Linked DNA regions of Homo sapiens. The protein of the gene in region 3 interacts with the protein of the main gene of each other region in a pairwise test. Each region holds a gene or a part of one and is shown on either strand. Other genes may lie near its edges.

Region 1 (7,043 bases), on a different chromosome or scaffold from region 3:
TTAAATTAGATGAGAAAAGGAGGAACATTCTTCATTTTTTCTCCTGCTTTAAGCACTAAACCAAGAGTTCTATAAATGCAATAAGCAAAAAAGTGAAAAATGTACTCAGAAGACTATACTGGATCAGTTAGTGTAGAATACTGTTATATTAATTTTTCATTGTATTAGGGTTCTCTAGAGGGATGGAACTAATGGAATATATATGTATGTATATATATTCCAACCCAAAGTGTCTTGGTGGCAATCTTAATATATATATATTGGCAATCTTTATATATATATAAAGGAGAGTTTGTTAAGTATTAATTCACATGATCACAAGGTCCCACAATAGGCTGTCTGCAGGCTGAGGAGCAAGGAGAGCCAGTCTGAGTTCCAAAACCGAAGAACTTGGGGTTCGATATTTGAGGGCAGGAAACATCCAGCACGGGAAAAAGATGTAGGCTGGGAGGCTAGGCCAGTCTCGCTTTTTCATGTTTTTCTGCCTGCTTTATATTTGCTGACAGATGATCAAATGGTGTCCATCCAGATTAAGGGTGGATCTGCCTTCCCCAGCCCACTGACTCAAATGTTAATCTCCTTTGGCAACACCTTCACAGACACACCCAAGATCAATATTTTGTATCCTTCAATTCAATCAAGTTGACACACTCAGTTTTAACCACCACAAATCTACCCCTTGTCAACTTGAACCCGTACACATCTCCTGAGATCACACATAATCTTCAAATAAAGACAATAATTAGGTCATAATTACACCTGATGTAGTACAACTATTCTTCATACATCCGGAAACACACTAGTCCCCAACTGAAACACTCTTACATAAAGTTAACGATACTTAAATGCTGATGTGAAGTCAATAAATCTTATGTCACATGATAAAGGAGAAAGGAAATAAAATGAAGATATTTTCTTAGTACAAGTGTGTGCAAGCACAGACATGTTTTTAATAAAAGAAGGAGGAAATACTGAGGACAATTACAGTCCTCATTTCTGCAGCTGGTCACATGGTAGTAGCTGGTATTGATGACTACCTTCTTCTACCCATTTTGTATTCCTTTTGCCTTCAGCAAACACCTCAGCAGGTTGTGTTTTTTTTTTTCCTGATGGAGAGGCCCAAACCATTTGTAGTCCCGCCTGGATTGGGCTGTTGTAGTTGCCCATTGACCTTAATCACAGGGCATGGTAATACTAAGAGACGCCCTAATGGATCTCCTGTATTCCATGAATACTCTTTCTTACCTCCGTTCTGGAGTAGTAGACTGATTTCATCTTGATAGCCTGGGTCTTGATAGCCTTGATGTCCCAGCCAACACTGTAACGCCTTTCTTAGCCTGTTTACTTAAAGGTAGGAACCCAAAGTGTCCTGGTGGCAATCTTAACTACCAGTTTAATGGAATTGTTGTTGTGTCTTCTGATGGCAGCGTTCCTCCCTCTGGAACTAAGACCTCTAGGCCAGCAGAACTTAATGTTACGGGAACAGGAAGCAAACATTTTGCTAGTGGATCACTAGGGGTGATGGTGAGTGGTACCACTTCCATTTCCACCCCTTGATTCCTGGACCTGTGAATCCTGGCTATGGGAGAAACAGTACCACATATTGGACGCTGATTCAGAGCATACACAGCCTTCTTGAGAACTTTGCCCCAACCCTGCAAAGTATTCTCACCTAGTTGGCATTGTAATTGTGACTGCAAAAGGCCATTCCACCGTTCTGCTTCAGGATGTTGGGGAACATGGTAAGACCAGTGAATTCCATGAGCATGAGCCCACTGCTGCACTTCTTTAGCCATAAAGTGAATGCCTTGGTCAGAGGCAATGCTGTGTGGAATACCATGACAGTGGATAAGGCATTCCATGAGTCCGCGGATGGTAGTCTTGGCAGAACCATTGCATGCAGGATAGGCAAACCCATATCCAGAGTAAGTGTTTATTCCAGTAAGGACAAACATCTGCCCTTTTCACAATGGAAGAAGTCCAACATAATCAACCTGCCACCAAGTAGCTGGCTGATCACCCTGAGGAATAGTGCCATATCAAAGGCGCAGTGTTGGTTTCTGCTGCTGGCAAATTGGGCACTCTGCGGTGGCAGTAGCCAGGTCAGCTTTCCACCGGCCCATCTTGTTTTCTGCACTGGGAAGGTGGGGCATGAGCACAAATGTTAGGACCTGAAAGGTGGTGAACTCTGCCTGGGCAGGGCAAAGCCAGAGGAAACTCTGGTGGAGGTCCGTAGCAGTCCTGATGTGCAAATCGGTCATCCAACCTGGGTGTAGGGGCGAAAGACTAATTGAACCATCTAGTAGCTGGTTCCCTCCAAAGTTTCCCTCGGGATAGCTGGCACTCTCGCAAAAACCCCACTCTTGGTACCAATTTACTGTATTAGTCCATTTTCACGCTGCTGATAAAGATATCCCCGAGACCGGGAAGAAAAGAGGTTTAATTGGACTTACAGTTCCATATGGCTGGGGAGGCCTCAGAATTATGGTGGGAGGCAAAAGGCACTTCTTTCATGGTGGTGGCAAGAGAAAATTAGGAAGAAGCAAAAGCAGAACCCCTGAGAAACCCATCAGATCTCATGAGACTTATTCACTCTCATGAGAATAGCACAGGAAAGACTGGCCCCCATGATACAGTTACCCCACTGGGTCCCTCCCACAACACATGGGAATTCTGGGAGATACAATTCAAGTTGAGATTTGGGTGGGGACACTACCAAACCATATCATTCATCAAAAGGTGTTGGTGGGGTAGAGGGTAGTTAGGATGATCCATGATCTCCATCATGATGATGATGGTATTGATGATGTAAGTCACTGAAAATATTTGGTGTTATAAGAATAATTTCTTCCTGATTGTCAGTTTTGAGTTGTTTTGCTATTAGGAGGCAAAGTAGGGGGGCATATACCCACTTAAAATATTTTAATTCTGGCTAGTGGAAATGACAGTAATGCCTTCTTCATAATTAAAATGTCACTCTGAAATGGTCCCAAATTAAAACTTCTTCCTTTGTTGTTAAGAAGGATCTCTTCTTGGTGTGTTCTGCAAGATTCTGATCACCTTTTTTTTTTTTTTTTTTTTTTTTTTTTTGAGATGGAGTATTGCTTTGTCATCCAGGCTGGAGTGCAGGGTGCAATCTCGGTTCACTGCAAGCTCCACCTCCCGGGTTCACGCCATTCTTCTGCCTCAGCCTCCTGAGTAGCTGGGACTACAGGCACCTACCGCCATGCCCGGCTAATTTTTGTATTTTTAGTAGAGATGGGCTTTCACCTTGTTAGCCAGAATGGTCTGGATCGCCTGACCTCATGATCCACCCGCCTCGGCCTCCCAAAGTGCTGGGATTACAGGTGTGAGCCACCACACCCGGCCGATTCTGATCATCTTTTATACATATGCTATTTTTGTCTATCACTTTAGGAATCATCACAGATCAAGGTCATCCTTTTGGTTTTTGTGATAGCGCTATACCTCAGTCAGCTTACTAGCTCATCTCCACTCAGAGATGAAGAAGCATAGGCAGCAAGTTAGTGCCTATACATAATATATATGGAAACCAAATTCAGGGTTGATTCTTTCTTTCTTTCTCCCTTCCTTTCTTTCTTTCTTTCTCTTTCTTTCTTTCTTTCTTTCTTTCTTTCTTTCTTTCTTTCTTTCTTTCTTTCTCTCTCTTTCTCTCTTCCTCTCTCTTTCCCTCTCTCTTTCTGTCTTTCTTTCTTCTCACTCTGTTGCTTAGTACAGTGGCGCAGTCTCGGCTCACTGCAACCTCCACCTCTTGGGTTCGAGTGATTCTTGTGCCTCAGCCTCCCAGGTAGCTGGGATTACAGGCATGCGCTATGAAGCCCGGCTAATTTTTGTATTTTTAGAAAAGATGGCGTTTCACCGTGTTGGCCAGGCTGGTCTCAAACTCCTAACCACAAGTGATCTGCCCACCTCAGCCTCCCAAAGTGCTGGGATTACAGGCATCAGCCACCACTTCCGGCCCGGGGATCTTTCTGTTTCAGTTGTGGGCATCACTCTGAAAATCACACTTGCTAGAAGTGAGCATTTATATCTCTTCTCCACTGTAAATAAGTGCCTCTTAGTGACATGAGTGGAAAGACAAGAAGAATTGCAGTTCCTTCATTTTCTGTCTTAGCTCCCTGAGATGTATATGCTGTGCCTAAATTTGTGTTATAGTTTTCTCCTTTGATTTGACATTCCTTGATAGGCAGAGAGCACTTTTCTGTGCTCATATGTCACATCTCGCATCTTTTTCCCTTATAGAAAAACTCTTGTGTCTCCCATTTACCTTTCTATGAGGTCAGAGATTTAGATACTTTCCTAGACAATCAACTGGAGTATTAACAAATTCAAGGAGTTCTCGCCATCCCATTACTGGGTATATACCCAAAGAATTATAAATCGTGCTGCTATAAAGACACATGCACACGTATGTTTATTGCGGCACTATTCACAATAGCAAAGACTTGGAACCAACCCAAATGTCCATCAATGATAGACTGGATTAAGAAAATGTGGCACATATACACCATGGAATACTATTCAGCCATAAAAAAGGATGAGTTCATGTCCTTTGTAGGGACATGGATGAAGCTGGAAACCATCATTCTCAGCAAACTATTGCAAGGACAAAAAACTAAACACCGCATGTTCTCACTCATAGGTGGGAATTGAACAATGAGAACACTTGGACACAGGAAGGGGAACATCACAAACCGGGGCCTGTCGTGGGGTGGTGGGACGGGGGAGGGATAGCATTAGGAGATGTACCTAATGTAAATGACGAGTTAATGGGTGCAGCACACCAACATGGCACATATATACATATGTAACAAACCTGCATGTTGTGCACGTGTACCCTAGAACTTAAAGTATAATAATAATAATAATAAAAATTCAAGGAGTTCTTATCTCTGTAGTTTAAATAATAAGCGACTTAGACTAATGACAACAAAAAGCCAGCCATGTGAATACCAAATTTACTAGTTCTGTGAGGATATTTTTTTCTCTTTCTCTTTCTGCCTCAAAGAATCTGCTTTGCTTCCCCTGGCATCATGATTTAGTTTTCAACCCGTCAGAGTCTTCCTGCTAGTGCTGGTACTTTCCTACTTGAGAAAGTCCACGGAATACCTTCGAGACCTCTGTCCTCCTGATGGCTTCTATTTCATTTGTTATATAGGGACCCAGAGGTCCTTCATCATTTTCAAACACATCAACAGATATTTATAGCAAGGCCACAATTAATAAAATGTTTCCCAGAATATATGTGTGTGTTACATTTAGAGGAAACAGAAGTAGTATTGACTTGTTTCTATCACCAGAGGTCTATTTAGTAACTATATTTTGTGGAAAATATCGATATATTTTATCCATTCAACAGACATGATTTGAGAGCATACCACGGAGACCCAACCCTGCCAGTGTGGCAGGTGGTATAATAGAAGAAAATAGCAAACTTGGTGTATCTGTCTTTGCGCACATGTATGTATGTGAGGGGCACTAAGGATGACTTTACAGAGGTTGGAACTTTTGAGTAGAGTTGCCAAGATAGGGAGAGTTCACTAGGAAAACAGAAGGGAAGTTGATTTTTTTTTTTTTTTGAAATGGAGTCTTGCTGTGTCGCCCAGGCTGGAGTGCAGTGGTACAATCTCGGCTCACTGCAACCTCCGCCTCCTGGGTTCAAGTGATTCTTCTGCCTCAGCCTTCCAAGTAGCTGGGATTACAGGTGCGCGCCACCATGCCCAGCTAATTTTTGTATTTTTAGTAGAGACAGGGTTTCACCATATTGGCCGGGCTGGTCTTGAACTCCTTACCTCATGATCTGCCTGCCTCGGCCTTCCAAAGTGCTGGAATTACAGGTGTGAGCCACTGCTCCTGGCCCGGAAGTTGATATTCAAACAGGAGCAGCATATGCAAAGACAGTGAGCTCTGAGAGAGTAGATGGATCCAGACTCCTATTGCTGATAGCGTCCTGCAGGATTGGGCTTCAATGTGACTAACCTACAATTGCCTCCAGGTGCTCCACCCACTGAGTCCTTGTGTCTCTGCTGAGGTCCTTGGAGAGTTACTGGAGAGGGCTCTGTGTCAGATGACCTTGAGGAGGCTCTGATTTAGCCTTTTGTAAAATGCAAAGAGTTGAGGTCTTCTCCACGCAAGAGCTCGCTGATGTCAATGAGGTATTGAGGATGGGGCCATCTCCTATTTCTGTGGCCAGTACTGAGTTTTGTTATCCTTCCTTTAGGTAAGGAGTGCCAATGGACCGATGCCTGCCTGTCTCATCCCTGTGCAAATGGAAGTACCTGTACCACTGTGGCCAACCAGTTCTCCTGCAAATGCCTCACAGGCTTCACAGGGCAGAAGTGTGAGACTGATGTCAATGAGTGTGACATTCCAGGACACTGCCAGCATGGTGGCACCTGCCTCAACCTGCCTGGTTCCTACCAGTGCCAGTGCCTTCAGGGCTTCACAGGCCAGTACTGTGACAGCCTGTATGTGCCCTGTGCACCCTCGCCTTGTGTCAATGGAGGCACCTGTCGGCAGACTGGTGACTTCACTTTTGAGTGCAACTGCCTTCCAGGTAAGGAGCTCCCTAGTGTCCCAGGATTAGGGGACAAACCCCTAGCACAGGAGGTAGTGGGTGTGGCTCAATTGCTTTTTTTAGGAAGCGCAAGGAAAAAGGGAAGTGAGAATTTTGTGTGGGGTGGGTTGCTAGTGAGGGAGGAGTTTTATGGGCCCACTGTGGTCCATAAACTGAGCAGGGGATAATTTAGCATGTCAGGGTTTATGATGATGAGTGGCTAGAAAATTGTTTATTGTCCCTTTTGTAGAAACAGTGAGAAGAGGAACAGAGCTCTGGGAAAGAGACAGGGAAGTCTGGAATGGAAAAGAACACGATGAGAATTAGACACTGGAAAATATGTATGTGTGGTTAATAAAGTGCTTTAAACTGAATTGACATTAACAGTGGGTGATCAACTTTACTATGTGCTTGTGCTTTTGCTTTTGATGGAGTAATTCATTGTTTTCTTATCCACCTAAATGCA
Region 2 (7,285 bases), on a different chromosome or scaffold from region 3:
TTAGCTTCATTTTTTTTCCACTTTCTATATTTAGGCAGAAAATCTTATCTATTTTGTTCATAGCTGTAGCCCCAATGTCTGCATATAGTAGGTGCTCAATAAATCTTTATTCAATGAATAATTGACTCTTTCCCCAATTCACATGTGAGCTCTTTGAGGGCAGGAAACTCTTATTTATTGCTAAAATAAGTTATTAAATAAAGGTTTAAAATAGTACCTGGTAATCCGTAGGAGTAAGTTAGGAAGAGGAGGTAAGTTAAATCAGTAGGAGGCTGGCGCACCAGCATCCCCCACCCCAAAGTTAGTAGTTGCTATTATCATCATCATGGTCATCATCAATGTCATTTCCTGTGTCCTGGGTACTAGGCAGACACAAAATGGTGCCTATTGAACAGCTGAATGAATGAGAACCTCGAGCCTGCATCTGCCTTCCTGGCAGGCCTCAGGGGACGTCCATCCTTTTAGCTATACGTAGGGCTGGGCCCAGCAGGCAGAGCTGGGGGGCAGGGAGCTGGAAGAGCATTGCACAAGGTGGTACTTTATTGAGCACTTACTTTGTGCCAGGCCCTGGGAGCATAAAGATGATTTTGACCTGGCCTCAGTCCTTGAAGAACTCAGAATCCTAGGGAGAGAGACATGTGTGTGTTAAACATTTCATGCCTGAGTGTGGAAGGATGAGAACAAGTGGGCCAGGCAAAGGAAGGGAAGAGCGCCTGCACCTCTTCCTTTTCAGGCCTCAGTCTCCCACTCTGCTCCTTGAAAGTGCTGGATCAGGTGACTTTCAAGGTCCCTCTGGCCTCTGATAGTCTGCAACTCCATGGTCTTTGGCCGCCGGCCCTTGAGCTGTCCTATGGTTTCTGCTGCCCTCTGCTGGAGCCTCTTGGTGACACTGAAGTCCTAAAAAGCCTCCTTGAACCTTTCATTCTTCCTTTTCTTCCCCAAAGCCAACAGCACCATCCAGTCGCCCACCCACACACACCTCTCATCCCTTAAAACACCAATTAAACATCTCTTGCTTGTCTCTGACATCAAAGTTTCCCAGACAAAAGTATTCTCAGTTATACATTTTAGACAATCTGAAACTGAATACGTACATGATTTGTAACTGTTATGACCCAGCAATCCCATTCCTAAGTAGCAATCAAGAGAAATGAAAACATATATATCCACATGAGACTTGTACAAGAATATCCATAGTAGTTTCACTCATAATAGTCCCAAACCAGAAAAGACCAAGGGCCCATCAGCTGGGGTGGGGATAAGACAAGGTTGGTCCATACAGTGGAATTCTACTCATGGTGAGAAGGAGTGGACTTTTCAAAAGCTCTGTGGTAAGTGAAAGAAGCTAAAGGAAAGCAAGCACATATTGTGCAGTTCCATTTATATGGAAATTCTAGAACAAATAAACCTACAGTGACAGAAAGCACATGGGGGATTTCTTTCTTTCTTTTCTTTTTTTTTTTTTTTTTTTTGAGACAGAGTCTCACTCTGTCGCCCAGGCTGGAGTGCAATAGTGCGATCTCGGCTCACTGCAACCTTCACCTCCCAGGTTCAAGTGATCCTCCTGCCTCAGCCTCCTGAGTAGCTGAGATTACAGGCACCCGCCACCATGCCCGGCTAATTTTTGTATTTTCGGTAGAGACAGGGTTTCACCATGTTGGCCAGACTGGTCTTGAACTCCCGACCTCTGCCTGCCTCGGCCTCCCAAAGCGCTGGGATTACTGGCATGAGCCACCACGCCCGGCCTAACAGATCAGAGATTTCACAGGGTTTGGGGTGGGGAGTGAAAATGGAATTTGGAGACATTATCTGCAAAGGGGAGCAGGCAAACTTTGGAGGAGATGGAAATTTAAAAACTTTTTTTTTTATTGGGATGGTGGTTAAACAGATGCACACACATACAAAAAACTCATCGAGCTAGTGTTATGCTAAGTGCAATAAGCCGGACACAAAAGTACAAGTATTCATGATTTCACTTACTTGAGGTATCTAAAACAGACAAATTTATAGAGACAGAAAGTGGAGTAGTGGTTACCAGGGGCTGGGGGCAGGAGGAATGGAAGTTACTGTTTAATGGGTACAGAGTTGCAGTTTGGGATGCTGAAAAAGTTCTGACCTTTTCATCGGAAAAGGAGATGAATAACACCGATGCTTCCACGCAAGTGATGTACTTAATGCCACTGAACTGTACACTTGAAAATGTTTCGAATGATACATTTCATAGTATGTATATTTTACCCCAATTTAAAAAAGTCTAAAAAACAAAGCTCACCAAATTGTATGCTCTAAGTAGGTACATTTTTTATTGTATGTCAATTATACCTCAATACAGTTGAGTTTTAAAAGTCTCCCAGGAGGGATGATACTGCTTTGCTCTCCTCACCTAAGCTTACTCTGTGGCTCTCTGTGTGAGGAGGTGGAGTGTGAGCCCTGGAATTGGACGCACCACAGACCTCGGTTCAAATCTTGCTTGTAGGCGGGGCGCCGTGGCTCAGGTCTGTAATCCCAACACTTTGGGAGGCCGAGGCAGGCGGATCGCCTGAGCCCAGGAAGTCGAGACCAGCCTGGACAAGATGGTGAAACCCCATCTCTACTAAAAATACAAAAATTAGCCTGACGTGTGGGCGCGCGCCTGTAATCCCAGCTACTCAGGAGGCTGAGGCGGGAGAATCGCTTGAACCCGGGAGGCAGAGGTTGCAGTGAACTGAGATCGTGCGTGGGAGACAGAGCAAGACTCCGTCTCAAAACCAAACCAAATAGTGCTTCTGCCACTAATTAGTGTCCTAAGCCGCTCAGGACGTCGGTTTCGCCATATGTAAAAGGACATAATGATGAAACCAATCTCGAGTGAAGGATTCAATGAGGCAATACGCCTGAAGGGCTGACCACGGCGAAAGCTAATGTTCATTGCTATCAGGCGGGGAAAGCTAATGTTCATTGCTATCAGGCGGGGAAGGGCTCCCAGGTCTGGTCCCCCGGCTGTGGGGCTCTGGGAAGCGGATGCTAGCCGCGAGGTGGCGCTCGCACCGGACTCGGTGGGCTCAGGAGTTGCTTACGCGCTGGTGGGTGTGGGCCGGAGGCGGGGCGGGCAGAGGCGGAGAATGCTTCCCAGGGTCACACCCTCCCGCGGTGTGACTTTTTTCTTTTCTTTTTTTTTTCTTTCTTTTTTTTAAGATAGGGTCTCGCTCTGTCGCCCAGGCTGGAGTGGAGTGGCAGGATCTTGGCTCACTGCAGTCTCGACCTCCTAGGCTCAAGCGATCCTTCCTCTTCAGCCTCCCCAGTAAACCGAGACCACAGGTGCGCGCCACTACACCTGGCGCGTTTTTTTTTTTTTTTTTTTTTTGACGGAGCTGTGCTCTGTCGCCCAAGCTGGAGTGCAGTGGCACGATCTCGGCTCACTGCCACCTTCGTCTCCTGGGTTCAAGCGATTCTCCTGCCTCAGCCTCCCCCAGTAGCTGGGATTACAGGCGCCCACCACCACGCCCGGCAATTTTTTTTGTACTCTTCGTAGAGACGGAGTTTCACCGTGTTGGCCAGGCTGGTCTCTAACTCCTGACCTCAAATGATCCGCCCTCCTTGGCCTCCCAAAGTGCTGGGATTACAGGCCTGAGCCACGGCGCCCGGCCCTAATTTTTGTATTTTTAGTAGAGACAGGATTTCGCCATGTTGGCCAGGCTGGTCTCCAAACTCTGGGCTCCACGATCGGCCGGCCTCGGCCTTCCAAAGTGCTGGGATTATAGGCATGAGCCACCGCGCCCGGCCTTCCGCAGTGCGATTAGGGGCGGCAGGAGGAGAGGGGGGCCTCGCCCTGTCAGCCTCTCCGAGACTAGTGGGATGCGGTGCCCGGGAGGGGTCTTAATAAGATCACGGTTGCTGGGCAGCACTGGACAGTGCCCGACGTAGGCGATCTCATTGATTCCTTCCCACAACCCCACTTTGCAGATAGGAAAGCTGAGGCACGAGAGGGTAAGTAACCCAGGCCGCACAACGAGGGGAAGCTAGGGAGGGACTGGGGCCCTGGGCCCCTGCGCTGACCTCCCCTCCTCATCCCCTTCTTATCCCCCTCTGCTCCTGGCCCAGGCCGCGCAGAGTCGGCCTCTGTGATCCCACCCAGAATACAGTTTTCCCTCCCGGGCGCCTGGATCTCCCCTCCCCCGGCTCCTGTTTCCTTGTCAAAACTTCCTGCCTTGGCGAGGGCCCGAGTTCCCACCCCCTTCCTGCCCCCCGCCCCTCGGCGCCCCTCCCGGCCCTGCGATCAGCAGCGTCCCGCCTCCCCGCCGCTCCCGCAGTCAGGCTGGGGCTCGAAGTGGGGACCCTCGCCCCGTCCTCGGCTGTCCAGTCCTCCTCCTCGCAGACCCCGGCGGTTCCTACCCCAGGCCGCAGGGGAGACGGGGCCCCAAGGCAGGTGAGTGACTGCGCGCCCCCTGGCAGGGGAGGCCCGGTGGTGCGGCCCCGGAGACCACCCTGCCCCGGGGAAAGGGCTTGCGGTCCCTGAGGTCCCCCTCCTCGACTGGAGTCTGAGGCCCCAGACCCAGGAGTGTAGAAAAGAGGGACTGATGGAGAGAGACGTGAAGGAGGGGAAGGGGACAGTGGAGGGGGCCAGAGAGGATGGGTTGGGGGTTCCCTTCCGTAATGAACATGTAAATGAGATGAAATGCTAGCGAGGTTGTTCCCTAAGCCCCTGGTCCCCGGACTTTGTGAGTCAGGGGCAGCCTGGCTCACTGCCCCCTCCCAGGGCTGGGAAGAGAAGACTGGGTGCTGTCCTTGGCTTGCAAGGGAAGTGTAGCCACAAGAGCATCGACACTGGAGCCAAGACTGCCTAAGTGCCACCCTCCACTCTGCAGCTTACTGTCTGTGGGGTCTTGGTCAAGAGGCCTGACCTCTGTGCCTCAGTTTCTCATTTCTAAAGGAGAATAATATAGGGCCTACCTCATGGGTTGTGAGGCTTAAGTGAGCAAAAACGTGTCTCCTGCTTTGAATGACGCTAGATAAACAGATTATCAGTGTCATCTCTCTGTCCAGCGGCAGGAATGTTTGAGGGAGGATGTAGGGGAAGGACCCAGGTTTGCAGGTCCCTGGCTCTCACATCTTTGCCAGTTATGAGGACTGGGGGTTCAGCTTGAGGTCCCGGGCAACTGGATCCTCAGAAAACTTGGCAGGCTGATGATCTGAAGTTGTGCTAAGGGCCAGGTGGGTGTGTGGGGGGTCCAGGAGCCCAGGCCCCAGCAAGGCAACCCTTCACCCCCACCCCCGTCTCCAGCCTCCAGTAGCTGCTCTCCACTCCCCTGTTCTGGCCTGTTATGAGTGGCCTCTCCTGGGGCTGGGCTGTGACCCTAGTCCCCGGGGACAGGAACAGCTTGTGCTGGCCTGAGGTTCCCAGGCTCAGCCAGGGCTCAGCTCGGGCAGGATTGGGCCGGGTGTCAGCTCTCAACCCTGGCCTAAGCTGGCCTTGTGCTAGGGGGACGGTTGGAGACGGGGGAGCTCATCTCTGAACCCCACTCAAAACCAGCTCATGGTATAGGGCCTGTTGTGTGTGCTTGTGAGCCAGTCATAAGCCAGGGTGTGGGCGCAGCCCTCCTATCTCCTGTGTCTCCTCCCTGCTGTGTGGCCTCTCCCACTCTTGAGGCCTCCGAAGGCCCACCCACCATGTTCCCCACTGCAGGTGGGGCTGCCATCTCTAGGAGCTGGGTTGGCCAGACTCACTTCTCTGCCTTCCTCTCTCTCCACTGGAGGATGAAGCTGAGAGTTGGCATCTGTTCCTCCACCCTCTGTCCCCCCTCAACATCTCCTATCAGACTCTCCCAGAAGAGGAAACTCACGCTCCAGGCAGCCTCATCCACCAGTCGGAAACCTGGAGAGAGATAGAAGGTCATGGGGCTGCTGTGTGCCTCCCCGCACCCGACACACACTGCTGGGGAGGAGGCTGAGGCCAGGTGGAGCCTCCACCACGGCATTCCCCAAGCCTCTCCTCTGAGGAGCCTTGGGAGCCTTGAGAAAGAGGCCTCCCAGGACTCATGGGGGACCCTGGGGTGCCATCCTAGCTTTGGGGAGGATCTTGGCTTCTGTCATCTAACCTACAGGGGAGAAGCCAGAAGGAAGAGGCAGAGAAGACAGGGAAGGAGAGAGAGAAACACAAAGACAGAGATAGAGACAGATATAAATACGGAAACAGAGGCTGACAGATGCAGAGACACAGCAGAGGCACAGACTCATTACAACAAAATGCCCGGAGGGAGAAAAGCAGGCCTAGAAAAATAGAGCAGAGACCTAGGGATAGAACAAAAAGGAGGCGGAGACAGAGGGAGAGGAGGAGAAAGTCAGAAGACCAAAGAGAAACTGTGAGGTTAGAAGGCAGCACACTGGAAACACCAGGCGAGGTGGCTCACGCCGGTAATCCCAGCATTTTGGGAGGCCAAGGTATGAGGATCTCTGGAGGCCAGGAGTTCAAGACCGGCCTGGTCAACATAATGAGATTGCATCCCTACAATTTTTTTTTTTAATTAGCTTGGCATGGTGGTGCCCGCCCATGGGCCCATCTACTCAAGAGGCTGAGGTGGGAGGATCACTTGAGCCCAGGAGGTTGAGGCTGCAGTGAGCCATGATCACGCCACTGCATTCCAGCCTGGGCACACAGCGAAGCCCTGTCTCAAAACAAAACAAAAAGAAAGCAGCACAGGCTTTGGAATGACATAGACCTGGCCCAAATCCCTGCTCCGGCTTCAGTTGCCTGTGTGGCCTAGGACAAATCACTGAACTTTTCTGGGATATTTCTTCATAAAATGGGAGGCATAATAGCACTTACTTTATAGGCTTGCTGGGAGAACTAAAAGACAGGATCTAGCCACAGCACACATTTAACGAGGCGCAGTAATTAGTATCCCAGTACCTGGGAGGTAACCCAGGGGTTACCTCCCCACACTGCTTTGTGCTTTGAAGCAGATTTGAATCCTGCTCTTGCCCCTGGCAGCCAGACAGCCCTTGGCAAGGCATTTTACCTGAGACCCTCCACTGTGCTGCCTACCAAATGGGGATGACAATCACCAGCACCTTCCAGGGTGGCGGCGAGGGTTGGGACTGGCACTGGCGACAGCCTGCGGGAGGGGTTGCGATTGATGTGTGAATCAGGATCCCTGCAGGTGAGTGGGCCCTGGGGCGTAGCCCGCTCACTGCTGGTGGGTGCTCATGCCCTCCCACTTTTGCCCTCCGTCCTACCCCCATGAATTGGCACCTGGGGCCCAGTCCCTCTGTGTAGCGGGAGATGTGTGCAGTGGACAGTGAGGGGGTG
Region 3 (7,587 bases):
AAAGTCATATTTAAGCTAGTCAGTCACTGATACCTGCCACTTTAATGTACATAAATTTAGAGACTTTTGCTGAATTAATTAAAAAATATGGAGATGTTAAAGAACTGGGGCCTGAAAGACTGAGAAGACACTCTAGAATGGGGGAGATGTGAGAAAAGCTCCATCTGACTTCTAATTTAGTCTCAGGCCACTGCCTTCACCGCCTGGTGATTTCTGAAAATTCTTCATTAGAGGCATCTTATAACACAGGAGACCCATCTTGTCACCAGATCTGTCACCAGCAGTAAGGACAGGGGACAGGGCAGCTGAGTCTCTGCACTTTTTTGTAATGGAACCTCAACCATCTGGCTCAATGGGTTTCTGGCTTCTCCATGGAGACAGCATTTAGATATTTAAACTTTAATGTGAGTGACTCAGGAATAGTTTTGCAGACAGCATCAAATGCCTCTTCTCACCACTGGAACGAGAAGCCATGAACGGCCGGCACCGAGGCTCTGACCAGGCAGGGAAGGGCATTCATGCCTTTGACTCGTGACCTAAGCCCCAGTATTATGCCATGCATGTGCTAGGTGCCAGGGCCTGGGGATGCTAGGAGGAGCAAGGTGTGCTTCCTGCCCTTGATGAGCTCATAGTCTAATAAGCCCTCTAAGTACTGGGTGTTGGACAGGAGAAGCCCAGGAGTCTGCTGAACCAGGAAGAGGCTGCCAGACTCACAGTTCTGGGAGAAAGGAGGGCAGAGTCCAGGAGAGCTGAGATAATGCCTCCAGGAGCAGGTGACACCCAGTGAACTCCACTGTAGGGCGGAGGCTACTTATCCCCTGCCCATGTCTATACCCACTGGTGAGTGTGTGGGTGGTGGTGGGTGGTATGGGCAGTGGTTAGAGGAGGCCTGGTCAGCACTTTTAGGCCATGGGAGAGGCAGAGTCTCACAGTTCTCCTTGTTCCTACCATTCTGCTTGTGTCTTACAGTTCCTAACCCTCTATTCTTGGGCCTTCTACAGGGCCACTCCTTTCTAACAAATGAAAGCAAGAGTCAGGCCCCCAAGGAGAAGGAGCTGTGAGCCAGTTCCTCATCTCACTGCCAGATGATTCCTTTCCAAAAGGGAAAGGTACCCAGGAAAACTGTGGCTGGGAAAGCTCTGAGAATTAGGACTCAAGTGACAAGGGAGGGGACAGAAGAGCTCTTCATGGTGTTTGCCAAGTCTGAGTACAAAGATCACAGGGCAAAGAGTAAGAAAGAATCTGACTAGGACATTTTGGCAAGGTCCAAGGAGAAACTAGAGGGTGGACGAGTGACGGATTTAGGCAGAAAAGGCTGGTGAGTGGGGAATAGATGAGGCAGGAAGAGCAAGGCTAAGGAACCCAAGAGAGCCAAAATGGTCCATGACAGAGGGAAGAGCATCCCATCCCAATGCAAGGTGGGTAGGTTTCGATGGCAACGCATCCATCGCCTTCTCAGTAATTAACCAGCCTCTGTGTACATAAAGACATAATTATAGGCCAAACAACTCCTTTGATGTAAGAGTATAGAACGTCTGGGGGGAAAGGGGCAAATAAAAGAAAGAACAATCTTGCTTTAATATACAAACAAGGTCCATGGAAAGGTATTGCCAAACAAGCAAATAAGCCAAACAAACAAATGAACAGAGTGTTGGGAAAGCAGGACCCAGGCCGACTGGGCACCCAAGATATCCCGGGCCCTCTGAGAGCATTCTAGCTGACTTCATTGGGCATTTCTGCTTTTCTTTCAAAGAGTTCACATGTGTTCTCATCAGAATGGCTGTATTCACATCCCCTACCTGTTCTATGCAGAAATTCTCAGCATTTCCAAAGGGGCCTGTTTACTTCTGGAATCAAAACCCCAAAGAAAGGGGGGGTTGCAAAGGGTTTGAATGGCTCCTCCTGGGAAGCAAATCTAATCGGGAATGGAGCTGAGCTTGTAACCCAGCATCCTGGATGCCTGTCCTGTGATATAACCCCTGAAACACCACTCTTTCTGTTGGGGCCAACTTTATTAGAGAAATCTGTTAATTGGGGAACGGAGCGGGAGAAGGGAGAGAGCAATGGGATGTTAATATGATTTAACACTTGATGGGCTCTGAAAACAAATAAGGAGGGGGCTTCGGGCTTTAGCTTGGCACATTCGTCGTTCCACATACGTGTTACCAAAATGAATATATGCAACTAAACTATATGCGAGACTCTGGGGGCACAGTAACACAGACTTTGTGAAACAAAAAGGCATTTCTCCTGCTTCCACTGTGTCTCTTGTGGTGCCATTGTCTGATGCTAAGAACTCACATAATAACAAAAAACAATGCCCCTATGATGGGGGGAAAACTTGATTTGGCACCAGCCGTGGTGTTTTCCATGGGAATGATGGTGGGGGCTGTGGCCGACTGTGGGAATAGTGCAAATCAGCACTTTTTTGTAGATTTTCTTCAAGCCATTGTTTATTTTGGCTTTGGTCAGATCCGTGGCCCAGCTTGAAGATTCCCACTGGGCTTTCTGAAACTCGCAGACCTATGAGAGATGGAACAGGGATAAATAAATAATTACAAAACACCCTTCCCCCACCATGGCACTCATGCATGCGTGTGCCTGTCTTGGTGGTGCATGTATGTTGCAGTACTATACATCTGACCCATGCCACCAATGGGCAATTAAAGAGAAAGCAAGGTTTTCTCTGGGCTTAGCTGGTTCATTGTCTCAGTACCATCTTTCATTTGGGGCAAGAGAGATCAGAGCTGTTTCACACAAGGGCCAGTTTTTGCAAAATGGCATTGGAGAAAGCTTGTTTGAAACTGTGCATACATGAGGTCTTCCTAACATTTTTAGATGTTTACAGGCATTTCAACACGAATAACTCAGGTTGTGGTTCTCACAGAAGCAAAAAATCAGTAATTGTTCTAATAATGGAAGATAAACTTTTTTTTTTTTTTTTTTTGAGACGGAGTCTGGCTCTGTCGCCCAGGCTGGAGTGCAGTGGCGCTATCTCGGCTCACTACAAGCTCCGCCTCCCGGGTTCACGCCATTCTCCTGCCTCAGCCTCCGGAGTAGCTGGGATTACAGGCATGCGCCACCACGCCCGGCTAATTTTGTATTTTTGGTAGAGACAGCGTTTCTCTATGTTGGTCAGGCTGGTCGCGAACTCCCAACCTCAGGTGATCTGCCCGCTTTGGCCTCCCAAAGTGCTGGGATTACAGGCGTGAGCCACTGCGTCCGGCCATCAAGAGTTTTTATGACAATGTGTATGAAGCTGCCTTTGAGTAGGGTGGCTGCATCGCACACCTCCAGGGGGCAGCATTGTCTTTGTCCTCTATATAAATGGTTCCCCTGGAGGAAAACTCCAGGTGACCTTGCAAAGTAACCATATTTAGATGGGCTTGTCATAGAGATATTTTCCAAGGAAGTGCAGAAGAGTCTTGTTCACTACATCTTGTTCCTTTCTTAGATACAAGTTACATCAGAATAGGGGACTCAGGCTCTTGCCTGGGTCTGGATTGGAAGAAAAAGAGCTTACCATGGGCCAGAGTGTGCTAAGTCAGATACAATACACAAGCATCTTATCACACATTTCAATGATGTGGAAACTTAGGCCAAGAGAGGTTAAGGGACTTGTCCAAGCTCACACAGTCTGTATGCAGCAGAGCTGGGATTTGAACCCTTTCCTATGGCACCCTAGAGCAGCCTTCAATCATCCCCTGACACCTCCAGTACTTCCCAGGGCTGGAAAGCATCCATGATTGCGGACAGCAGTGGCAGTGAAACAATGTCAGCTGGGGTAGGGGTTTTCAGAGGCAAAAGGTGGAATTCAGCTGGGGAGGGGGGTGGTTCCTGAGCTGCCACTTCTGCCTCTCAAATTAAAGGGAGCCAGGTGTGGAGGCATCCTGGTGTGAGCTTTGCACAGCTGAACCAAGGCTGGGCAGAGGAGTGTGGAGAGGGATGCTGACATCTCCTCCCACTTCTGGAAAATAACTTTGCATTTGAAGGGAGAAAGGCATGAGTAAATCTGTAACTCGGATTTGGACGGCCTGGGATTTCATTTGACTGTGTGAAGGCACACACAGGTGCCTCGCAAGTGTGTGCGTGATTACGTATGTATGTGTGTCTGTGAGTAGGAGTGTTTGTGTTGGGGGTGGGGGGATCTTCTGGTTACACACTGGTTCCCTTCTTCCCATTTGGATTGGGGAGCTTTTATTTATTTATTTTTAAGTCATAGCAGCCACCATGTATGGGGACCTAACTATGTGCCAGGCATTGTGCTGGACACTTTCTGAGGCATTATTTTTCTGTGAAAAAAGTAGTTTGTTTTTATGCAGGTGCACCCAGAGACATCAGGTATTTTTTTCCATTCCGGTTAAAAGACAGTGTTCTACTCTGTGGTAAGCCTTGGGGAGAGGCAGGGAAGCCTGCGGGGACGGGCAGGGGCGGTCCCTGCCTCGCTCGCTAGTCTCCACCTTTTATTTTGACCGGTCCGATGGCGACAGGCTCGCACTAGGACCCAGGCGCCAGAGTGCCTCCGTCTGTCCTGTAGGTTCATTCAATCTCCCATACACACAGACTCACAGCGAGACCGACACACACTCCCATACACTCACACACACAACTGCAGGCAGCGAGGCTCGGGAAGTCAGGCCGGCTTTTCGCCCCGGCGCCTTCTCTGCTCCAGCCGGCCGGGTCTCCCTGGGGGCCCGGAGCTCGGCCGGGCCGCGCAGCCCCGTTAGAGGACGAGCTCGGCGGACCCCCGCTCCTCCATGGGCAAACGCGGGCGGCCGCGCAAGGAGGCGCGCTGCGAGGGCGCGGGGCTGGCCCCCGCCGCGCCCCCGGCTGTGCCCCCCGCCGTGGCCGCGCCCCAGCCCCCGGCCCTGCCCGAGGACCCCGCTGGGGCCAAGCCCAGGTGCCCCTTCTCAGACATTTTCAACACCAGCGAGAACTCGATGGAGAAGCACATCAACACTTTTCTGCAGAACGTGCAGATTCTGCTCGAGGCCGCCAGCTACCTGGAGCAGATCGAGAAAGAAAACAAAAGTAAGTTTGGGGGCCCCTGCTCTTCCTCGGCGCCCGGTTCTTTCTTTCTCGCCCACTTGGGCGACCCCTGTTGCGAGCTCGGCCCGTCCCCCCCCCGCCCAACATACACATCCAGCCCTTGGCAGTAAAGCCGATGACACCGGAGAAAGGACACGCACGCACAAAGCTGCTAAAGATGTAACAAAGACGGGCGAGGGGGAGAGGGGCCTGTCGGTGCGTCGGTCTGTCCTCTCCGGCGGGCTGGGGCTGGGAGGATGGCCCAGCGGAGGAGCGGGGGAGTGTTGTTGTTTGCTGACAACTGAGCCGAGAGCTCATCTCTTTGAGGTCGCTTTTCTTCCTTTTTTTTTTTTTTTTTTCCGGAGCCTTCTCAGGCAGACAAGTGTTGTTTTTCTGTTGCTCGTTCCTGGGTGGGGTGGGGATTAGAAGCCGAAAGTTGGAAACCATAGGCAGAGCTCAGAGGTTCCAGAAAGAAAACACACAGACACACACTACAACAATAACAACCAAACAGCTCTCCACGGCGTGGGCTCGGCTCTGTCTCTCTCTCTCCCTCCTACTTCGCCTTTTTCCTTCCCTCTAGCAGCAGGACTGGGCTCAGGCCATCACGTCTACGGACACAGTCCCCCTGCACGTCCGTTGCCGTGGGGTGCCACCGCCGCCCCCCCCCCCCCAAAGAAGGAGGCCGGCGGGGCCAAGCAACGCCAGCAGCTCGCCCCGGACACGCCGTCCTGAGCCCGGGAAACTTGGCCGTGGGGACGCGGCTAGAAGGAAACTTTGGGATCTTTGAGAAACAATAGTTGGGGAAGAAGGTGTGGGCTGTTCTGTGCTTTTTCTTTATTTTCCGGGAGACGGCTCTTGAGTGAGCGCACAGGGCAAGCAAGGCAAACGCCTTCCTGGTCGATTTCTACTCCCCCCACCCGCCCACCCCCAGATTCACGTGGATAGTAGTGCGTGGGTGGGGGTGTGCTGGGAACCCCACCCTGGCCTGGCTTCTTTTTTGTATTTATTTGTTTCATTTTTGCCCCTACCAGCCAGGTCACCCAGCTTTCCCCAGGCAGTCGACTCAGCGCCCTAACGGGGGCACGCGTGTGCAGCGTATCCAGCACCGTCCTCAGAATAATAGCTGTGAAAAGGAGGAAGGGAACTAGGCAGACAGACCGACAGATAGGGGGAAACCGGGATGTTTAATGTGTCCGAACAAGTAGGAAGATCAATGAGGCGCGAGTGTGTGTGTGTACGTGTGCGCGTGTGTGTGTGAGAGAGAGAGAAAGAAAGAAGAAAGGTCCCGATTGCAACGTGTCAGATCTTGCAACCTTCCCCCCACCCAACACAACAACCCTCAGACACAAAAACACCATTGCTGACTGATACCCCAGGTCTTCAGGGTTAAAGGAACCGTGTGTTGGCAGCGCAATTGTGCAGACGCTGTAAGGCCAAAACGAGGATTTGTGTTGTGAGGTCGGTGGTGCGTTCTTTTCTTTCTCTTCTCGCCTGTTTTCCCGGAGTGCCTGGGTTGCGAGAAAGGCGCATCGCAGGCTGTGCAGCCGAATCGCTTCGCAATTATTCATGCTGGTCGGAGGGGGATGGGGCGCGGGAAGCTATGTGTGCATTTGTCTGGAGGGTAGTTTCTGAAAAGCCAGAGCTGGTGGGGAGCTGGGTGAAGACGTGGTTTTGTTTGGTGTGTTTGCTTTTGTTGCAGGGGGGAGGGGCGCGATTTCTTCAGCTACCCCCATCCCCGGCTACCAGTTCTCTGGAGTCTGTCCCGTGGCGTTGGCTCTGACTAGGGGTACACCCCATGAGGGCACGTTGGCAGTGTGTGGCAAACCTGGCTTGCCCCCCTACCCCAGCCACCCCCCCTCACCAGCGAGGTGTATGGAGGAGGCGGTCGGAGATTCCTCAGCGTCCCGCCCCCCACTTCGCACCCGCAGACAATCGGAGACCTCCCCCTGCCCCACCCCCCACCCCCCACCCCGCCGCCCTGGCCGCCGCCACCTCGTTGTTTACCCCGTGCCGGGGCTCCGGCGTGGCCACCAGTCACGTAAGCAGAGAGCCGGGCGCGCCGGGCTTGGGCTGCCCCGCGCGGGGCGGGCCCGTGGCGGCGTAACCGGGCTCCAGAGGCTGGTGAAGCCGAGGGGCTTCCTCCCAGCCCATCGCCCGAGGCGTCCGCCCTGCAAATCTGCCAGCCCCCGAGAGGGGTTTGGAACCTTAGCACCCAAGTCTAAGTCAACTTCATGTGCGTAATAAGTCCCTCGGCCCCGCAGCCCCCCTCCTCCGGCCGGCTCCCGGCGGGAGTATTTTTAGCTCTCTTGCTTCTTTTCGCCGCTGCTGTTTGGCTCTAAATGACGTGATGCCAACGGCCCCCAGATTTCCCCGAGAGCTTGGGGCGCCGCGCCGTGCCCAGTTTGGCTGCAGAGACCCCGCTCCAGGCCCTCGCCCCGTCCCCAACAGCTCGAACAGGCTGGGGTGACCTCCGGCAAACTCCGTGCGACCATCCGCCAGGCCCTCTGTTATCCCCCTTGCAAAGAGAAGCGGTCCACGGGGGCCACTTTATCCCAC
Region 4 (7,414 bases), on a different chromosome or scaffold from region 3:
TCGTGCCTTAGCCTCCCTGGTAGCTGCAGAATTGTGTCAAGCAATTCTCCTGCCTCAGCCTCCAGAGTAGCTGGGATTGCAGGCACGTGCCACCACACCTGGCTAATTTTTGTATTTTTAGTAAAGACAAGGTTTCACCATGTTGGCCAGGCTGGTCTCTAACTCCTGGCCTCAAGGGAGCCACCCACCTCGGCCTCCCAAAGTGCTGGTGTAGATTACAGGCATGAGCCACTGCACCCAGCCAACCTGGCTGATTTTTTTTTTTTTTTTTTTGAGACAGAGTCTCACTCTGTCCCCCAGGTTGGAGTGCATTGGCACGATCTCAGCTGACTGCCATCTCCATCACCCGGGTTCAAGTGATTCTCCTGCTTCAGCCTCCTGAGTAGCTGGGATTACAGGCCTATGCCACCGCACCCGGCTAATTTTTTTTTGTATTTTTAGTAGAGATGGGGTTTGACCATGTTGGCCAAGCTGGCCTTGAACTCCTGACTTTGTGATCCACCCACCTCAGCCTCCCAAAGTGCTGGGATTACAGGTGTGAGCCACTGTGCCTGGCCAACCTGGCTGATTTTTAATTTTTTTGCAGAGGTGGCAGTCTTGCTGTGTTGCTGAGGCTGGTCTTGAACTCCTGGCCTCAAAGGATCCTCCTGCCTCCACCTCCCAAAGTGCTGGGATTATAGGTGTCAGCCACCACACCCAGCCTTAAAAGGTTTTTTGAATGAACAAATGAATGAATATTGCCTACATCAGGCCCACCTCCTCCCTCAGACAGAGAGCCACATGGGACTCAGGATGGCCCCACTCACCTCTTTCTGCAGCGTCTCCTTCTCAGCTCGGATGGCCTCCAGGGAGGCCTGCGTGCGGACCAGCTCATCCTCTCGGCTACTCAGGGCCAGCCGGAGCCAGGCATTCCTCTCGGCCAGGCGAGCTGCCTCTCGCTGGCAGCTCCCTGCCCCTTCCTGCTTCCCAAGGGAACCTGCTCCCCCTTCGCTTGTGCCTTCGAACTCCATCGGCCCAGAATGGCTGGGGGGCTGGTGGCGCCAGGCTGCAGCCGCTGCCTCCAGGGAGCTCAGAGTGTGCTGGAGGGTCTGAAACACATCGGGGGCCCCATTCCCAGGGGGCACAGTCTCCTTGTACTGTAGGGCTGCTTCTGGGGCTTGGTGGGCTTCCACTGCAGGTTTGTGGGGCACTTCGGGGGCTGAGGCCAGTTCCCTGCCAGAGCCCCCATCCATCTTCTTGTCAGTCCTGTGGACACCAACTCAGGCACTTGAGTCACTCCATGCTGGGCAAGGAATTCTTTTTTATTTTTTGAGACGGAGTCTCACTCTGTTGCCCAGCCTGGAGTGCAGTGGCGCGATCTCGGCTCACTGCAACCTCCACCTCCTGGGTTCAAGTGATTCTCCTGCCTCGGTCCCCCAAGTAGCTGGGATTACAGGCTCCCACCACCACGCCTGGCTAATTTTTGTATTTTTAGTAGAGACAGGGTTTCACCATGTTGGCTAGGCTGGTGTCAAACTCCTGACCTCAGGTGATCCGCCCAACTCGGCCTCCCAAAGTGCTGGGATTATAGGCATGAGCCACCATGCTCGGCCCTGGGCAGGGAATTCTGAGGGCTTAAACTTCATGGTCTTGGGGAGGTGTGAGCGGAGCAGGGAGTTGGCAAGAGCTGCGTGTTCTGGGACTGGCATCCCAGGGTGAGACTGGGAGGCTGTGAATTCAAGGAAGAGGCTAGATAGAGGTGGTGAAGAAGTTGGAGGGGAGACCTGGAGCTGAGAAACAGAGTGAAGTTGGACTGTGACGGGCACTGGGAAAGGCCTGAAGGTGAGAGACAGAAGTTTCTGGAAATAGGGTCTTCTGGGGCGGCGGCTTACACTTGTAATCCCAGCACTTTTGGAGGCCAAAGTTGGGGGATCACTTAAGGGCAGGAGTTCAAGACCAGCCTGGCTAATGTGGCCTGTCTCACTAAAAATGCAAAACTTAGCCGGATGTGGTGGCGCACACCTGTAATCCCAACTACTCAGGAAGCTGAGGCTCCCGCTTGAACCGGGAGGCAGGGGTTGCTGTGAGCCGAGATTGTGCCACTGCACTGCACTACAGCCTGGGTGACACAGCAAGACTCAAAAAAAAAAGAAAGTCAGGCTGAAGGCAATAGGGAGCTATGGTAGGTGTGTGAGCAGAGCAGGCACATCAGCAGATCTGTGGATGGCAAAGATGCGTCTGGACTGGAGTGAAGGGCACAGACCAAGCGGGTCTTACCTGCTTCCTAGGCCTTGGCCACTGACCTCCTCCATGGGGCCCAGCTGCTCCAGCCCGGAGCTCACCGGAGGTGGGGCAAAGCTGGGCTTGGAGCTCCCACTGGCTGCCTCGACCTCCTCTGAACTCTCAGCCACGGGATCCAGTTCACCCTGCAAATGACCCCCGGGGCCCTGCTCTGAGCCAGGCAGGACAGGACCTTGGGGTCCCCAGGATCTGGGTGTGGAGGGGAGAGGGTGACACTTACGGGTGGAGCATGCCTCCCTCGCCGGCTTCGGGGCCGCGTGGCCCGGGCACTCATTGCTGTCCAGAAGCCAGTGCCCTCTGAATGCTTCTCCTTCGTCAACCCCTAAAACCACAGCCTGCCATGAGCTCTTGCCTTTGTTGTCCTGGACAAAGGACAACCTCAATTTCCTCTGCTGTGAAATGGGGCACTGACTACCCCTCAGGAAGGGATTTTGTTATCAATGTTGATTGGGCAGATTTGAATGCCTCCCTGGACAGGGAGCTCACTACCTAAGAAGGTTGTCCTGATCTCCCCCTTCTTCTCTGCCTTCTTTACCTTCACTACGTCTTTGTCCACTTTCCTCCTCTATTTGAGCCTGGGAATGCGATCTCAAGAATTCCCTCTCCTCCCCGGCCCTCCTAAATGAGAGGTTCAGCTCTCTCTACCTCTCTGATCCTCTGGGGGTAACTTGATCAGAGGCCTGAGTCCCGGGACACTCTGTTGGGGTCACTCTGACCACTGCCTGTTCAGGCCTGGGCTGGCCAAGCCTGGCCTGGGAGGGGCTGGGAAACAGGAAACCCCCTCCCCTGGTCACGTGACTTGTTATTGTGTTGTTTCCTTCTCGGGGACAGCGGCTTCCTGCAGCCCTAGCGGGGCACACATACCTGACTCCCAAGGTTTCAGCCCCTCCTCTTCTCAGCCTCCAAACTCATGGCCCTTCTAGCTCTGACTCTTGGATTTTATTTCTCAAGAGCTAGAATGGGCCGAGCACCATGGCTCACACCTGTAATCCCAGCACTCTGGGAAGCTGAGGAAGACAGATCGCTTGAGTCCAAGAGTTTAAGACAAGCCTGGGCAACATGGCGAGACCCCCGTCTTTACAAAAAATATAAAAATTAGCCAGGAGTAGTGGCGTACGCTTGTAGTCCCAGCTACTCAGGAGGCTGAGGTGGGAGGATTGCTTAACACCTGGAAGTTGAGGCTGCAGTGAGCCGTGGTCACGTCACTGCACTCCATTCTGGGTAATAAGGCAAGACCCTGTCTCAAAAAGAAAGAAAAAAAAAGAGCTAGAATGTTCCCGTGAGCTGATGGTTTTTATTTGGCTCCCCTGTGAACTTTTCTTCTCTGCCTGTCTCTTCATTGTGGGCTGACAGTTCTCTTTTTTTTGAGATGGAGTCTTGCTCTGTCGCCTAGGCTAGAGTGCAGTGGCGCAACCTTGGCTCATTGCAACCTCCACCTCCTGGGTTCAAGAAATTCTCCTGCCTCAGCCTCCCGAGTAGCTGGGATTACAAGTGCCCACCACAATGCCCAGCTAATTTTTGTATTTTTAGTAGAGACAGGGTTTCACCATGCTGACCAGGCTGGTCTCGAACTCCTGACCTCAAGTGATCTGCCAGCCTCGGCCTCCCAAAGTGCTGGGATTACAGGCGTGAGCCACCGCACCCGGCTAGGGATGGGTTTTTCCCATGTTGGCGAGGCTGGTCTTAAACTCCTGACCTCAGGTGATCCACTCACCTCAGCCTCCCAAAGTGTTGGGATTACAGGCATGAGCCACCGACCCCACCAGCCCCAGAAACATTTAAGAGCCACTTGAAGCCTCAGTTTATTTATTTATTTTATTTTATTAGATGGAATCTTGTTCTGCCACGCAGGCTGGAGTGCAGTGGTGCGATCTCGGCTCACTGCAACCTCCACCTCCTGGGTTCAAGCAATTCTTCTGCCTCAGCCTTCTGAGTAGCTGTGATTATAGGTGCGCGCCACCACACCCAGCTAATTTTTTGTATTTTTAGTAGAGACGGGGTTTCACCATATTGGCCAGGCTGATCTCTAACTCCTGACCTCGTGATCCACCCACCTCAGCCTCCCAAAATGCTGGGATTATAGGTGTGAGCCACTGCCCCCAACTCCTCAGTTGTTTTTTTTTTTTTGAGGGTCAAAGAAGCCGGCCACATTGGCCAGGCTCTAATTCGAGAATAGCCGGAGGGGCTGTGTAAGGTGAGCTTTGAAGCATAAAGAACTTGCCAGAAAAGCAACAGGAGGAACAGCATTCCAGGCAGAAGGAACTTCCTGGGCAAAGGCTTAGAGCCTTCAAAGAGCCGCTCTAGGTGACACAGCGAGACTCCATCTCAAAAAAACAAAAACAAAAACGAAAAAAAAAAACACAACAAAAACCCAGCTCTACTAAAAATACTATATATATCTCAGCCGGGCCTGGTGGTGCATGCCTGTAATCCCAGCTACTTGGGAGGCTGAGGCAGGAGAATTGCTCGATCCCTGGAGGTGGAGGTTGCAGTGAGCCGAGATTGAGCCACTGCACTCCAGCCTGGGCGACAGAGCAAGACTCTTGTCTCAAAAAAATAAAAATAAATAAATAAATACTTCTGGGGCTAAGGGGGAAGTGTGCACTAAGAAGACAACGGCAGCCTGGGCGACAGAGTGAGACTCCATCTAAAAAATAAAAATAAAAAAAAAAGGAAGGAAGCCTAGGGTAGTCTGATGCGGTGGTCCTCGCCTGTAGTCCCAGCTACTTGAGCGATCGCTTGGCTGTAGTGACTAGCCATGATCGCGTGACTGCAGTCTAGTTTGGGCGACAGAGCGATACCCTGTCTCTAAAAATAAGAAAAAAAAAAGCCATGAAAAAAGAGGTAGGCTTGAAATAGGCCCGACTTAGCTTCGCTCCACCTACAGTGACCCAATAAGACCAGAGTAAGTATTTTTTGATTCATGCAAATATATGTAAAATAAGGAACAAGAATTAAGTAATTGGGAAGGGCCCTGGATGCTCAGGCCACACCCACATGGGAATACCTGCCCCACATGGAGGCTCAGGCCAGCTCCACCAATCACCAATCAGCTCCTCCTCTTTCCCTAAATCGGCCTTCTCCGTCCCTCTTAGCCTATCACATTGCAAGCTCCACCTCTATTCCACGTTTCAGCCTATCACGGTAGAAGCACTGACTATTGTAGTCTGATTCGGCCAAAAACAAAAATTCACTAATTTTTTTAATCCAATCACATTTCATACTTTGCTCCAGTGTAGCCAATCACATTCCAGGTCCCGCCGCACCCAGCTCCAGGCAGCTCTCACTCCAAACCCCACCCCCAACCCAGTTTCAGCCTATCAGTTTCCAAGTTCTTTCTAGCCTCAACCAGTTTCTGTCTCTGCTTGTTCTGCAGCCCGCTGAACTACATTTCCCAGGAGGCGTCGGGGCTGCGCCGTACAACTTCCGGCTGTAAAGATGGCGGCTTCCTAGTGAGTCGGCGGCTGATTTAGAAGGAGGTTCAGGCTACGGTGAGCCGAAGGTGGGTGGTGAAAGCGTGTGGGGCCCGTTCCTAGGGGCCCAGCTCCCTTTGCCCCAAGAGATCCAGCTCCTCGCCTTTCCTGGGGCTTCCGCCTTTATTTCTGGTTTCTCCTGCAGTGTAGCCTCCATCCTTCTTGCTGCCGCTAAAGCCTTGTTTTTCTTAGAGGTGTGGGGACTGCAAGGCGCTCAAAGACCATCTTGGGAAGCCCGTGCCTATTTCCCAGATAGACAAACTGCTCCATTCGCGTCCTGTTTCTCTCCAAGGGGAACCACAGTACTAATATTTTGCTTCTCCCTCATGCAGACACCCGCTAGGGACGAGGGTGTCCTAGAGGTTATTATTCCCTTATTCACCAAGACATTTTCAGTTTTAGGTAACAGAAAACCCTACTCAATCTGGCTTAAGGAAGAAAAGGAAGTTGGTGGCTTATAGATTGGGTCTAACAGGAGCTGGGTCCAGGTGGTCAGAATTCGATCTGCAGTTTTCTCGGTGGAGACCATTTCGCTTTTTACCGAGGCAAAAGGGGCCCCTCACAGCTCTCAACTTTATTCTACCAGCTCTGCAACTCTAATGAGAGTCTCTTTTCCTTGATGACACTGCTAGAAGTTGCAGAGCTGCCACTCAATGGCCTGATTTGGGTCATGTGCCCATCCCTGAGCCATTTTCAGTGGCCAGAGAGCTGGGATGTGCTCACTGGCCGAGTAGGGGCATGGGGCTAGCACTACGTTAAAAAAAAAAAGAGGAAAAAAGAGGGGGGACTGTTATCTTATGTCGGAGTGGCTGCTCGGCTGAGAGGTGTAAAAGGCAGCCATTCTGCAGCTGAGGAAAGTGACTCCCTAAGAGGAGTGACTCATCATCAGTAAGCGGCTCATCGCCCCTCTTCCTTCTTAGTAACCAATCTTTTTTTTTTTTTTTTTTTTGAGACGGAGTTTCGCTCTTTTTGCCCAGGATGGAGTGCAGTGGCGGGATCTCGGCTCACCGCAGCCTCCCCTCCCGGGTTCAAGCGATTCTCCTGCCTCAGCCTCCCGAGTAGCTGGGATTATCCGCATGCGCCACCACGCCCGGCTAATTTTGTATTTTTAGTTGAGACGGGGTTTCTCCATGTTGGTCAGGCTGGTCTCGAACTTCCAACCTCAGGTGATCCACCTGCCTCGGCCTCCCAAAGTGCTGGGATTACAGGCATGAGCCACCGTGCCCGACCGTAACCAAATGTTTTTAAAACTCCAAGGGGAGGATTCTGGCTTCCCCTGTCCGTGTTCCATCTAGCCACACAGGAGCCATGGAAGTGGCAGAGCCCAGCAGCCCCACTGAAGAGGAGGAGGAGGAAGAGGAGCACTCGGCAGAGCCTCGGCCCCGCACTCGCTCCAATCCTGAAGGGGCTGAGGACCGGGCAGTAGGGGCACAGGCCAGCGTGGGCAGCCGCAGCGAGGGTGAGGGTGAGGCCGCCAGTGCTGATGATGGGAGCCTCAACACTTCAGGAGCCGGCCCTAAGTCCTGGCAGGTGCCCCCGCCAGCCCCTGAGGTCCAAATTCGGACACCAAGGGTCAACTGTCCAGAGAAAGTGGTAAGTAGAGGGGGTGGCCTGGGGCTCTGAGATGCTAGGGAACCTAGCATCTTGTCTTTTGGGATTAA

Evidence for each region.
Region 1: the proteins of MXI1 (region 3) and NOTCH2NLA interact in binary tests that used the Homo sapiens proteins (3 or more experiments, as listed by UniProt).
Region 2: the proteins of MXI1 (region 3) and PEAR1 interact in binary tests that used the Homo sapiens proteins (3 or more experiments, as listed by UniProt).
Region 4: the proteins of MXI1 (region 3) and USHBP1 interact in binary tests that used the Homo sapiens proteins (3 or more experiments, as listed by UniProt).

The regions. Positions count from the first base shown.
Region 1 is NC_000001.11:146,156,014-146,163,056, reverse strand, and holds part of NOTCH2NLA (notch homolog 2 N-terminal-like protein A), read left to right. Parts: intron 1-6,241; coding exon 6,242-6,577; coding exon of another isoform or gene 6,578-6,765; exon of another isoform or gene 6,766-6,827; coding exon 6,828-6,904; 3' UTR 6,905-7,043.
Region 2 is NC_000001.11:156,889,433-156,896,717, forward strand, and holds the start of PEAR1 (platelet endothelial aggregation receptor 1 isoform 1 precursor), read left to right. Parts: upstream 1-4,285; 5' UTR 4,286-4,405; intron 4,406-7,285.
Region 3 is NC_000010.11:110,203,052-110,210,638, forward strand, and holds the start of MXI1 (max-interacting protein 1), read left to right. Parts: upstream 1-4,553; 5' UTR 4,554-4,757; coding exon 4,758-5,031; intron 5,032-7,179; exon of another isoform or gene 7,180-7,264; intron 7,265-7,587. UniProt on the Homo sapiens protein: Transcriptional repressor. MXI1 binds with MAX to form a sequence-specific DNA-binding protein complex which recognizes the core sequence 5'-CAC[GA]TG-3'. MXI1 thus antagonizes MYC transcriptional activity by competing for MAX.
Region 4 is NC_000019.10:17,261,746-17,269,159, forward strand, and holds the start of USHBP1 (harmonin-binding protein USHBP1), read right to left. Parts: upstream 3,001-7,414; 5' UTR 2,926-3,000; exon of another isoform or gene 2,816-2,925; intron 2,603-2,815; 5' UTR 2,555-2,602; coding exon 2,501-2,554; intron 2,406-2,500; coding exon 2,257-2,405; intron 1,246-2,256; coding exon 807-1,245; intron 1-806. Other genes in the region: BABAM1 (BRISC and BRCA1-A complex member 1), read left to right, coding at 7,062-7,346.